Homo sapiens: one gene and its partners. Each later gene encodes a partner of the first gene's protein in a complex. Each region holds a gene or a part of one and is shown on either strand. Other genes may lie near its edges. The genes, in order: RBBP7, EZH2 and HDAC2.

The links.
Region 2: RBBP7 (region 1) and EZH2 share a complex: the UniProt entries of both Homo sapiens proteins name them as parts of the PRC2/EED-EZH2 complex.
Region 3: RBBP7 (region 1) and HDAC2 share a complex: the UniProt entries of both Homo sapiens proteins name them as parts of the core histone deacetylase (HDAC) complex.

The regions. Positions count from the first base shown.
Region 1 is NC_000023.11:16,849,633-16,853,379, reverse strand, and holds part of RBBP7 (histone-binding protein RBBP7), read left to right. Parts: intron 1-504; coding exon 505-631; intron 632-751; coding exon 752-829; coding exon of another isoform or gene 830-964; intron 965-1,257; coding exon 1,258-1,334; intron 1,335-3,747. UniProt on the Homo sapiens protein: Core histone-binding subunit that may target chromatin remodeling factors, histone acetyltransferases and histone deacetylases to their histone substrates in a manner that is regulated by nucleosomal DNA.
Region 2 is NC_000007.14:148,882,327-148,886,073, reverse strand, and holds the start of EZH2 (histone-lysine N-methyltransferase EZH2), read left to right. Parts: upstream 1-1,782; 5' UTR 1,783-1,910; exon of another isoform or gene 1,911-2,138; intron 2,139-2,588; exon of another isoform or gene 2,589-2,877; intron 2,878-3,747. UniProt on the Homo sapiens protein: Polycomb group (PcG) protein. Catalytic subunit of the PRC2/EED-EZH2 complex, which methylates 'Lys-9' (H3K9me) and 'Lys-27' (H3K27me) of histone H3, leading to transcriptional repression of the affected target gene.
Region 3 is NC_000006.12:113,968,995-113,972,741, reverse strand, and holds the start of HDAC2 (histone deacetylase 2), read left to right. Parts: upstream 1-1,593; 5' UTR 1,594-1,833; coding exon 1,834-1,885; intron 1,886-2,012; exon of another isoform or gene 2,013-2,262; intron 2,263-2,463; exon of another isoform or gene 2,464-3,041; intron 3,042-3,747. UniProt on the Homo sapiens protein: Histone deacetylase that catalyzes the deacetylation of lysine residues on the N-terminal part of the core histones (H2A, H2B, H3 and H4).

The DNA of each region.
Region 1 (3,747 bases):
AAGAAAACTAGGTATGGACATGTGAAGGAACATACTTGGTGTGGTGGTAAATATCAAAATTGAGATCCAGAGTGATGCCAGTTGGAGGTCGAGGAGGAAAATGATTTCATCAAGGTGTGGCCACAGGGCTTCATTCACTTATAATCTTATAAAGAAATACCTGAGGCAAATGTGACAAAATACTGGGCATTTGTCAAAACTAGTTTTAGGTATCAGATTGTGACATTATTCTCTACATAGTCTGTATTTTGTGTACACTTGAAATAGTTGGTAATTAAAATAGGAATCTAATTTAAAAAACAGGACTAACAGCCCTAGCTTGTTCTCTGTAGGTTTCGAATGTATCATTTAGTGGTCGAGGTCTGAATCACCAGCTGTGTGGTTGGTTTCTTCATGAAGGGGAGCACATAGTGGAGCTAGTTGTGGAGTGCAGTGACAGTGATGTGAGGCCGAATGTGAGTGTGTCATCCCTGGGTGCCGTGTGCCTTTACCTTTGTGTTTTAGATGGGACACCAGGTCCAATACCACCTCCAAGCCGAGTCACTTGGTGGATGCGCACACTGCCGAAGTCAACTGCCTCTCATTCAATCCCTACAGCGAATTTATTCTAGCCACCGGCTCTGCGGATAAGGTTTCGAAGTTTTTGCATTATTTGGTGTTTATAAAACCCAGTTCTCTTGTGCCTTAATCAGATATTTGAAAATTCTTAGGTAAAGCATAGAAATCATTTTCACTTGTTATTTTTCTTTAGACCGTAGCTTTATGGGATCTGCGTAACTTAAAATTAAAACTCCATACCTTCGAATCTCATAAAGATGAAATTTTCCAGGTATGTGACAGTTTTCTGGTGTCTGTATGTCAGGAAATGAAATCCAGGGATTCATCAGTTAAGCTATACCAGACTCGTGGGTCCACTATTGAAAAAAATGTCTTGTACGTGGTGTTACATGGAGATGCTCATAGGGTAAGGTACACCTTGTTGAAGAATTAAAAAGCTTCTGGGATGGTTATGGGGTCGAATAAATTTATTGAGATCCCAGGCTGAGTTCCTCAGTGCTGGGGAGTGCAGCCTTCCTGAGGACAGGATGGAGCTGAGCCCTTGCAGAGCACTTGAAAGTCGGGGACAAGAGAGTGAGGCCATCAGGCCAAGGATAAGATAATAGAGTGCAAGATGGGAAAATATCAGATTAGAACAACAGCCACAAACCTAGCAGCGGATGATTCTTTAAATACATTTTCAAAATTATCTATTACTAGGTCCACTGGTCTCCACATAATGAAACTATTCTGGCTTCAAGTGGTACTGACCGCCGCCTGAATGTGTGGGATTTAAGGTAACTTACAGTCCTGTGACAAGATACTGCATAAATGTGCCTATCTGGCAAGTTACATAGTCATTCATAAACTAGAAAAGCAATTTGGTAATCCCCCCTTCAAGAAACCTAATATTAAAGAAACTTCTAAGCATCTTCCTAAAGAGCCTTTGTTCTGTAAAATAGAAGTGAAGCAGCAAATGGACCATAAAATAAATTTCTCTAGTGTGAGTTTTGTCTCTTAATATTCAGGCATGAAGGTGTATGTGTCTGTTTTTGTTTTTGCATTCAAATGACTGTATTTAAAACACACTTGATATAGAGAAATCAAGATGTTAGCTGTTTTATGTCTCATTGGATCTCAGTACGTGTAGGCAGGACTGTTTTTTCTGGGTTTTTGTACCATTTACTTTGCTTTCAGTGATTCATTCTGCAGATGTGCACTCCTGCTGTGGGTTGTGTAACTGCTGGGGAGACCTTTGTGAAGGGGACAAGGACAGCCCAAGCTGTCAGAGAGCTTATGTTCTCTGGGGCCTCATTGTATAAAGAGTTTCTGCCAATTTTTAAAGTTCCTTTAGTTCAGACTTGCTGTTCTAAGAATTTTAGACTCCTTTACTTGTTCATCTGAGCCTTTAGAACTTAATAAAGTTGCTCAGTTACATACTCCTCCGTAAGATGTCATCTTAAGTTTAAATCATAAAATTACCAAAAAATAACTTATTTCCTGCTTGTATTAAATATATTGCTTTGAAGTGGACTGAATTTAGTACAGGTTGAATATCCCTTATCCAAAATACTTGGAATAAGAAGTGTTTGGGGTTTTGGAATTTTTAGGATTTTGGAATATTTGCATTATACTTTATTGGTTGAGCATCTCAAATCTGAACTGAAAGTCCAAATTCTTCTTCTTTTTCTTTTCTTTTCTTTTCTTTTTTTTTTTTTGGAGACTGAATCTTGCTCTGTCACGCAGGCTGGAGTGCAGTGGCGCAATCTTGGCTCACTGTAACCTCTGCCTCCCAGGTTCAAGCAGTTCTCATGCCTCAGCTTCCCGAGGAGGTGGGTCTACAGGTCTACAAGCACTGCCACAGCCACCATGCCCGGTTTTGTATTTTTTACTAAAAAAATAAATAAATAAAGGCAGAGCTTTGCCATATTGGCCAGGCTGGTCTCAGACTCCTGACCCCACGTGATTCTCCCGCCTTGGCCTCCCAAAGTGCTGGGATTACAGGCATGAGCCATTGCACTCGGTGTGAAAGTCCAAATTCTGAGTGTCACGTGGTGCTTAAAGTTTTGGATTTTGGAACATTTTGGATTTGGGATGCTCAACCTATATATTAAAACCAAGGCTGCCTTAATTATAGAGGCAGTAATCCTCAGTATATAGAAGAGACGCTGGAGAATAAAATGCTTGTATGTAAAACTTAAAATAGCTAATGTTCAGGGTTCTGATGGAGCAAACTCTTGCCGTGATAAATACTTGAAGATGTAGAAAACCTTTAAAGCAGACAGTTGGGGGCATTGTATTTGATTTAAAAACAATTTTAGTAGTAAAATAAAACCTAAATCAAAACTATAAAGAGGTTGTATGAAGCGTACAGCAAGGTTTGGAAGTCTGATGCCCTGGCAACTGAATTGCCCCTGAAGGTGCCAATAATTTGTGAGCATTGTGTGTAATTTCTTCTTAGAATTATTTCTTAGCTTGTTTAATATTAAAATTACATTAGATAGGGGGCCAGGCATGGCGGCTCATGTCTATAATCCCAGTACTTTGTGAGGCTGAAGCAGGAGGATCGCTTGAACCCAGGAGTTCGAGACCAACCTGGGCAACATAGACCCTGTCTCTACAAAAAATTGTAAAATTACATTAGATAAAATTTGGGATTAAAATGGTGAGTTTTAGCAACTATACTGACAGGTGGAAGATAAGTATTGTCTAGCAATCCCACAGGTTTGAGATTGTTTGGTTAGTTTTGTGGGAAGGAAAAAAATGTCTCACTTGGAGGGCTGGGTTTTGTTTTTTAGTAGTTGTTACTACTAAAGTCTTTGGGCTAGGTATAAGGACAGGGCTGATATTGATACATAAAGAGTGATTTCACTGTTGAGCACTGGCAAATTCTACAAATTGAAGTTTTTAAGAGAAAAACCATAAAAACATTTCCTTGGCTTACACATTTCTCAAAGTTTTATTGCCATATCTTTAGACAGATCTATAGTACTGATTTGTAATTATATTTTACTCCTGGGATGCAACAGGCTTTGAGTGAAGTATAGGGATTGCACATCAGTTTATGTGTAGATTTTTTTAACTATACATTTCACCTTTTAATTCTAAGGCAATAAACAGTTAATGAAGGGATTTTGAGTTAATGTTTATTATTGACAATAATTCCTCATTCTGCAACTTCAATTATGAACAACTCTAACTTATTTCCAG
Region 2 (3,747 bases), on another chromosome or scaffold:
ATTCTGGCTAGTTATTAAATTCATTAAAAATATTTCTTCAGATTTTTACCCCAACAGTTCATAGGTGACCTTTTTTCAGTTTCCAGTATGAACTCTCAATATGGAATCTCAGTTTACATGACAATGGTATTTTACCCCATAGATACATCCTAGTAAAAATAAATTCGGAATACTCTTAACTGCATTGCCACATGAAGCAATAGGAGAGACTGTATCCTAAGCAGAATCCCTCTAATTCCTCTGGGTTGAGGTAGCTTGACCCCCCATAACCAAGATCAATTTTTTTTTTTTTTTTGAGATGGAGTCTCGCTCTGTCGCCCAGGCTGGAGTGCAGTGGCGTGATCTCGGCTCACTGCAAGCTCCGCCTCCCGGGTTCACGCCATTCTCCTGCCTCAGCCTCCCGAGTAGCTGGGACTACAGGCGCCCGCCACCACGCCCGGCTAATTTTTTGTATTTTTAGTAGAGACGGGGTTTCACCGTTATTAGCCAGGATGGTCTCGATCTCCTGACCTTATGATCCGCCCGCCTCGGCCTCCCAAAGTGCTGGGATTACAGGCGTGAGCCACCGCGCCTTGCAAATATCCTCACACTTTGCAGAGGCGGCAAGTGAACAGTGCTCATCTTGATAAAGGATTTTTAACACTGACACGTGCTTAGAACTACGAACAGTGGAAGGGTCTGAAATGGCAGCAATGTCGCCCTTTCACAGGTTTCTAGGGCGATAAGCACTGCAAGCTCGGCCAGCCAAAGTCCAGCGGTGGGGGAAAAAACGGCCAAGGCAGCAGCAGACATAATCAAACAGGGCCCGGGTCGGCGGCGGTGGCTCACGCCTGTAATCCCAGCACTTTGGGAGGCCGAGGCGGGCGGATCACCAGAAGTCGGGAGTTCGAGACCAGCCTGACCAAGACCCGTCTCTACTAAAAATAGAAAATTAGCCGGGCGTGGTGGCGCATGCCTGTAATCCAGCTACTCGGGAGGCTGAGGCATGAGAATCGCTTGAACCCGGAAGGCGGAGGTTGCGGTGAGTCGAGATCGCGCCATTGCACTCCAGCCTGGACAACCAGAGCGAAACTCCGTCTCAGGAGAAAAAAAAAAAAGTAGTAACGGGTCCGGCGGCAGCGCGCGGGCCGGGCGAGCGTCTCCCGGCAAACGCGGCGCCACAGCTGAGCCGACCTCCGGGGCCCGCGCCCTCCCCTCCCCGGGCACCACTAGGAGCGGCCAGCCCGGGCCTCGGCTCCGCGCGCGGGGAAACGAGCGCGGCGGTTAAAACCGTTACCACCCCCGAGTTTTGAACTGGTTCAAACTTGGCTTCCAGCACCCGCCCCGCCCCTCCCCCGCCCGGGAACTCTGCGGCGCCGGTTCCCGCCAAGAGCCGCCGGCGCTTCGTCCCGCCCTTCGGCCGGTTCCCGCCACCTATCCTCCCCGCCTCCCGTCCGCGGCGGGCTCCGGGCCCCCGCGATGTCTCCCGGTCCCCGCGTGCCTGCACACCGCCTTCCTGAGAGGCGCCGTGTGTTCAGCGAAAGAACAAAGAGACGGCGGCGGCGCTTCCACACGGCCAGTGGCGTCCCTTACAGCGAACCCCGCCGCCGCCCGCGCGCGCACGCGCTGCCAGTGCCCGCCCGCCCACGAGCCCTGAGCGCACTCTGCGTGGGGCTGGCTCGGCGCCTCCGAGCCCGGCGGGCCCTGTGATTGGACGGGCGCCCGCCTCGCGTCCCGCCAATCGGGGCGGCGCTTGATTGGGCTGGGGGGGCCAAATAAAAGCGATGGCGATTGGGCTGCCGCGTTTGGCGCTCGGTCCGGTCGCGTCCGACACCCGGTGGGACTCAGAAGGCAGTGGAGCCCCGGCGGCGGCGGCGGCGGCGCGCGGGGGCGACGCGCGGGAACAACGCGAGTCGGCGCGCGGGACGAAGGTAACGCGCCGCTGCGGGCGGCCCGGCCGGCGGGGCTCCGGGAGTGCGAACCGGGCGGCGGCGGCGGCGCCAGGACCTCCCCGCCACTGCTGTGCCGGTCCCGGGTATCGCCGAGCGGGGCTCACCGGGGCGCCGCGTTTGTAGGCGTGCGGGGGGTGGAGGGTGAGGGGAGAGCCCCCCTCCCCGGAAGGAGCTGTGAGCTTCGGGCTGGCCCGCGGGACCCTGCGAGTGAGGCAGCGCACACCCCTGGAGCTGCGGGGCGGGGGGCGTGTGGGGGGCTCCTTTCCCGGTGCTTGTCCTGGCCGGGGCGCCGGGGCCGGGGTCGGGGCGTTCCGGTGCCCGGTCCAGGGTGGCAGCTCGAGCCTCAAGTCTCCTTTGTGTGGCGCGGCCGCGGCGGGAGCGCCCGGGTGGGACGGGACAGACACAAGTTGGTGGGACCCAGCCGCCGAGTCCGCACTCAGACAAAGGACGGACTGTGTCTCCGGAGGGCTCGGCGCGAGGGGAAGGGGCATGACACCCGGGCCCGCCGGCGGGCGGGAGAGGGGCGTGGGGAGGCGCGGGCCGCTGCCGGGGTGGGCAGGGCTCGGCCCTCGCCTCGCGCACGCCCCCGGTCCCGGGCGCGCCGACCCCGGGCTGGGGCCGCGGCGCTCGCGGGACGACGTTCGCGGCGGGGAACTCGGAGTAGCTTCGCCTCTGACGTTTCCCCACGACGCACCCCGAAATCCCCCTGAGCTCCGGCGGTCGCGGGCTGCCCTCGCCGCCTGGTCTGGCTTTATGCTAAGTTTGAGGGAAGAGTCGAGCTGCTCTGCTCTCTATTGATTGTGTTTCTGGAGGGCGTCCTGTTGAATTCCCACTTCATTGTGTACATCCCCTTCCGTTCCCCCCAAAAATCTGTGCCACAGGGTTACTTTTTGAAAGCGGGAGGAATCGAGAAGCACGATCTTTTGGAAAACTTGGTGAACGCCTAGTGAGTTGCCACTTTCTAAAGAATCGTAATCCTTAAACATTACAAGCTGTTTTGGCCAACTTGTGTGATACATCTGAGAATGGCGACAGGTGCTAACGAAATCAACTGTCATTCAGCCAGATTATTCCCCAAATCCCGACGGGTTGAATGAGGATGAGGTGGTAGAAGTAGGTGATCAAAATAGAATGGCTATGACAAATGTGTGTTTAGATTATACGGTTAGCAGTTTCTTATTAATTGGTCTCGTTTTCTGTGAACAATAGCTTTGGTGATTCAGAAAAGACTGCATGGAGAAATGTTTGTTGCCTAAGAAATTTAACGTGTGCTGTCCACAGTTAAACTTCCTTTATCACACAGGATCTGTAACATTTAAATTCATTTGGAAATAAAAATGTGTCTTTGCTATTTACTTAAAGGCTTGCTTTTTAGGGTTCAAGCAAGTTATTATTAGTTTAATTTTGTGGCGTTTTGATGTCATCATAAAACAGCATTTAATAAACCTTTGAAAAACACGAATGCTGTCACAATTGAATGTAGTTTATACTTTTAGGGGTTTTGGAGTTTATTTTCTATTACTCTTCATAAGCATTAGCAACTAATTCATGTTTAGGAATACTGTACAAGTGTGTAATCCTAACTTGTTTATTTGTAATTTTATTTGCAGGAAAACAAGTATTTAAGATATATTTTAATTTTCTATTCATGGTCTCTAAAGTTAGGAATAGGTAGGATTCTAGTCATAGATATAAAGCGTCTTGTTCTCTCTTTTCGGAGGTGTGTTGGGTGATGTAATATTTAAGGTTTCCCGGAAACAGGAACACTGCATCTTAAATTCTCGTTTTTGTGGAAAGTGAATATATTCCAAGAAAA
Region 3 (3,747 bases), on another chromosome or scaffold:
TGTGGGCAACTGCAACATGGTTAAGTGTTGAGCTACAGCATACAACGTACATGGCATGGAGAACAGTCTTGGCGGGAGAGGGGTCAGGGAAGTCTTCCCAAAAGAAACAAAGTGTCATTTCAGACTTCATTGTGTTGGCCCTGGGGAAGAACATTCACTTCTACTAAATTCACTTATTCTGTTCTCAGAATCTTCCAAGTTGATTTTGTACTTGATAGAGCACAACTTAGAAGGTCAATTAACTTTACCTCTAGGCCAGTGTTTCACTCACCGTAATTTCTCTAGCAACTTCATCAGTCACCTGGGGTCTTGTTAAAAATACAGAGGAGGGGGCGGAGGGAGGGCAGGGGCCACCCTGGACTTAACTTTTTCTAAATCTCTTGGGGGTGAGGTTGGGGAAAATTGCTGCTTTAAGCATGAACACTTTCGGGATTTTGAAGTCAAACAGCAAATTAAAAGGGGTATTTTTGGTAGTGGCTCTTAAATTCCAGCATCAATACAGCCTTTTTTTTTTTTTAATAGGGGTGTATTTGGGGGGTAGGGATAGCAATTTTATATAACTGGGATTGGGTGCTATAAAACAGGCTGTTAGCCTCCAGCCCTCACCTGCAAGGTGGCTGGCTTAAGGTAGGTACTTGATAAATGTGGATTTATTTAACAGAGGAACACTTGTATTCATAACCTCCAAGAGTTTCGAAAGTCTTTCTGCTCCAATCTTCCAGTGTCTAGCCAGCAGCATTGCTGCAGAGTGGAACAGCTAGGGTGCGTGGAGTTTGCAGAATGAGTTCAAACCTCCAGACTTATCAGTTAGCAGTAAGAACAAGTTCCTTAATCTGCCTCCACCTATAAAGAAGGAGTACAATTGCCACTTACCTCCTAGAGTTGTTGAGAGTCTTAAATGAGATTAAATATTATAAATAGATTATCAATGGAATATATTATAAATGCAAGTGCTTAGAACTGTACCTTATAAATGAGCTCCACAGATGCTTATTAAAACCCGAGCGGTGCCCTCTCCCCTTAACATCCGTAATAGGCCCCCTTACACCTCATACCCATTACGAGTCAAAATAATAATAATAATAATAAATAAGTGAACAAACGACAAACGAGAAAACTAGGCTACCAGGCACTGGGGCGATGGGCCACAGCCCGGCGGGGTAGTGGGCCCGGAAGGGGCGCGGGAGTGGGCTCTCCCCGCCGGGCTCGCGGCACGTGGTCGGCTTGGGCGGGAGCTTCGCGACAGTGGGGGAGGGGAGCAGCGTGGGACGCCGAGGAGGGGTCCAGACCGCCAAGGCTACGAGGCGCCGACTGCGCAGGCTCGGGGACAGGCGCAACCACTGCGCGCAGACCTGAGGGGGAGAACGTCCACCCGGCTGCACGCTCCCTGGATCTACTTGCGCAGCGAAAGCTTGTCTTCTTCCTCATTTTAACACTGTGTATGGCGCCGCCTTGCGCAGGTTGTTCACCCTAACAGGGCCTCTAACCTCGAGCCCGAAACGGCCTCCTTCTCCAGCCGTGCCCCTTCCTCCCCCGTGGAGGCCGCAGTGGATGCGCTCACCTCCCTGCGGCCTCCTGAGGTGGTTTGGTGGCCCCCTCCTCGCGAGTTGGTGCCGCTGCCACCTCCGATTCCGAGCTTTCGGCACCTCTGCCGGGTGGTACCGAGCCTTCCCGGCGCCCCCTCCTCTCCTCCCACCGGCCTGCCCTTCCCCGCGGGACTATCGCCCCCACGTTTCCCTCAGCCCTTTTCTCTCCCGGCCGAGCCGCGGCGGCAGCAGCAGCAGCAGCAGCAGCAGGAGGAGGAGCCCGGTGGCGGCGGTGGCCGGGGAGCCCATGGCGTACAGTCAAGGAGGCGGCAAAAAAAAAGTCTGCTACTACTACGACGGTGAGCGGCCGGGCCGGTGTCGGGGTGGGCGCGCGGGGCCGGGCGCTGGGTTCCGCGGCTGCCGTCGCGAGTGGGCGCCGGGGCTGAGGGGTGGGAAGGAGGAGGGACCGACATTTGGCCGCATCTTAACCCGTTCCCGGCCCGGCACAGTTAGAACGAGACCCTCTTCCTGGCGCAGCCCCCGCGGTTCCTGCGGGCGGGAATCAGGGGGCCCGCCCGTCTTGTCTCCTGCCTCTCCCCCTTCGGCCGTGCAGTCCGCAGCCTCGAAGGTGGCCGCCGCTGGGGACGGCGCCGGCCTACCCCGCCTTGGTGGTGGCGGCGGCGAAGGGGGCGGCCCATTCTCTCCCTTCTCCCGCCCACCATTCGTGGCAACGCAGGTTTGGGGTGCCCCGCGTCGGCCTCCTACCCCCTCGACCCGTCCCCCGCGAGGCAAAATTTCTATCCCGGCCTTGACTCTACACAAAGCCCCGCGGCCGCGAGAGCTCCGCCCCTCCCGTCCCCTTCCCTCCTCCTCGCCTGCTCGCCTCCCCTACCCTGCGTTCGGTCTGGCCGGAGCGTCTTCTCCTTCCTCGGCTTACCCTTTCCCCGGACCCCTCCTCCCGGTGGGCGCTGGAGAGTAGTTACTGAGGGTGGGGGCTCAGGTCGCGTGTGGCTTTATCACACCCATGTTTTGCGTGGGCTCCAACCCTCTCCTTTGTTCGCTGGGTTCTTTGAGCGCGTCTTTCTCAGGATTCAAATGGAAGGGCTTCACTTCCTCAATAATAGTTCGGGTTTTCCAGTTTCAGGCAGAAAGACTTCGTAGGAAATAAGAGGTGGTAGGGAGATGTGGAACTGCTACTGCTTGTGTTGTAGATCAGACTCCATGGGTCCTGGCTTGCCTCAGAGAGGTGGTTACCACCCACTTCTTTGTTGCTCTTTGTTCGATCAGGAAATAGACCCTGCTTTGGGGATTTAGAGAGCATTGGTATCTTGCAAAGGCTGTTCCTAGGTGGTGGGGAATCCTGGTATGGGAAAACTTTGAGAAGTGGGAGAAGTGCAGAAGTACTAAATATTCTAATGAGGTAAATTTGAGGTCACCGTGTAGTGAATTATAAAAGTCAGATAATTTAATTATCTTAAGCATTCTATAATTTGGAGTATGAGCAGTAACATTAAATCTTCGAATCCTGTTTCCTGTGTTTTCTTGCTCAATGGAGTAGTAACCTGTTATACAGATTTCACAAAGGCTTGGTAAATAGTTTATAGTAGGTTACTCTTGAGAGAAGGGATTCCAAAATTTAACAGAGAATCTATCCTAGGCTCCTTCTCCTGAAAGTCCTGTCTGATTTGTAGGAAGCAATACAAATTTTGGAAGCTGTTTCCTACATGTGGTGTATTGTAAATCACAAAATTTTAGAGAAGTAAGACCCCAGAGCACCAGCTCAGAATAAATCTACTTTAACTTGTAAATGACCGTACTGTCTCTTTTTAGTTAAAAAGGATTAATCTTTTAATGACTGATACATATAAAATAACCACCTGTGTCATTTGGGGAAAATCTGAAATCTTACAGAACAAATCTAAATTGATCTGCGATAGCTAGGACAGAATAATAACAGCCCTACTTTTAAAAATGATTTTTCAGAGGACTAGATATGCATTATATAAGTTGATTTGAAATTATGCCATCGTGGAGGGGTGGAGATGGAAATACATTTTAATTTCAACATGATTTACATTGCATATTTTGGGTTATTCTTGCCCTGCATTCCCTGATCAAATTGGAAAGGAAGTAACCCTGCGTATAAGTTAATTTGTAAAATTACATTGTTTCTAAAGTTTAGAGATTTATCCTTGTCAGGGCTTGGAGTAAAGAGGAAAAT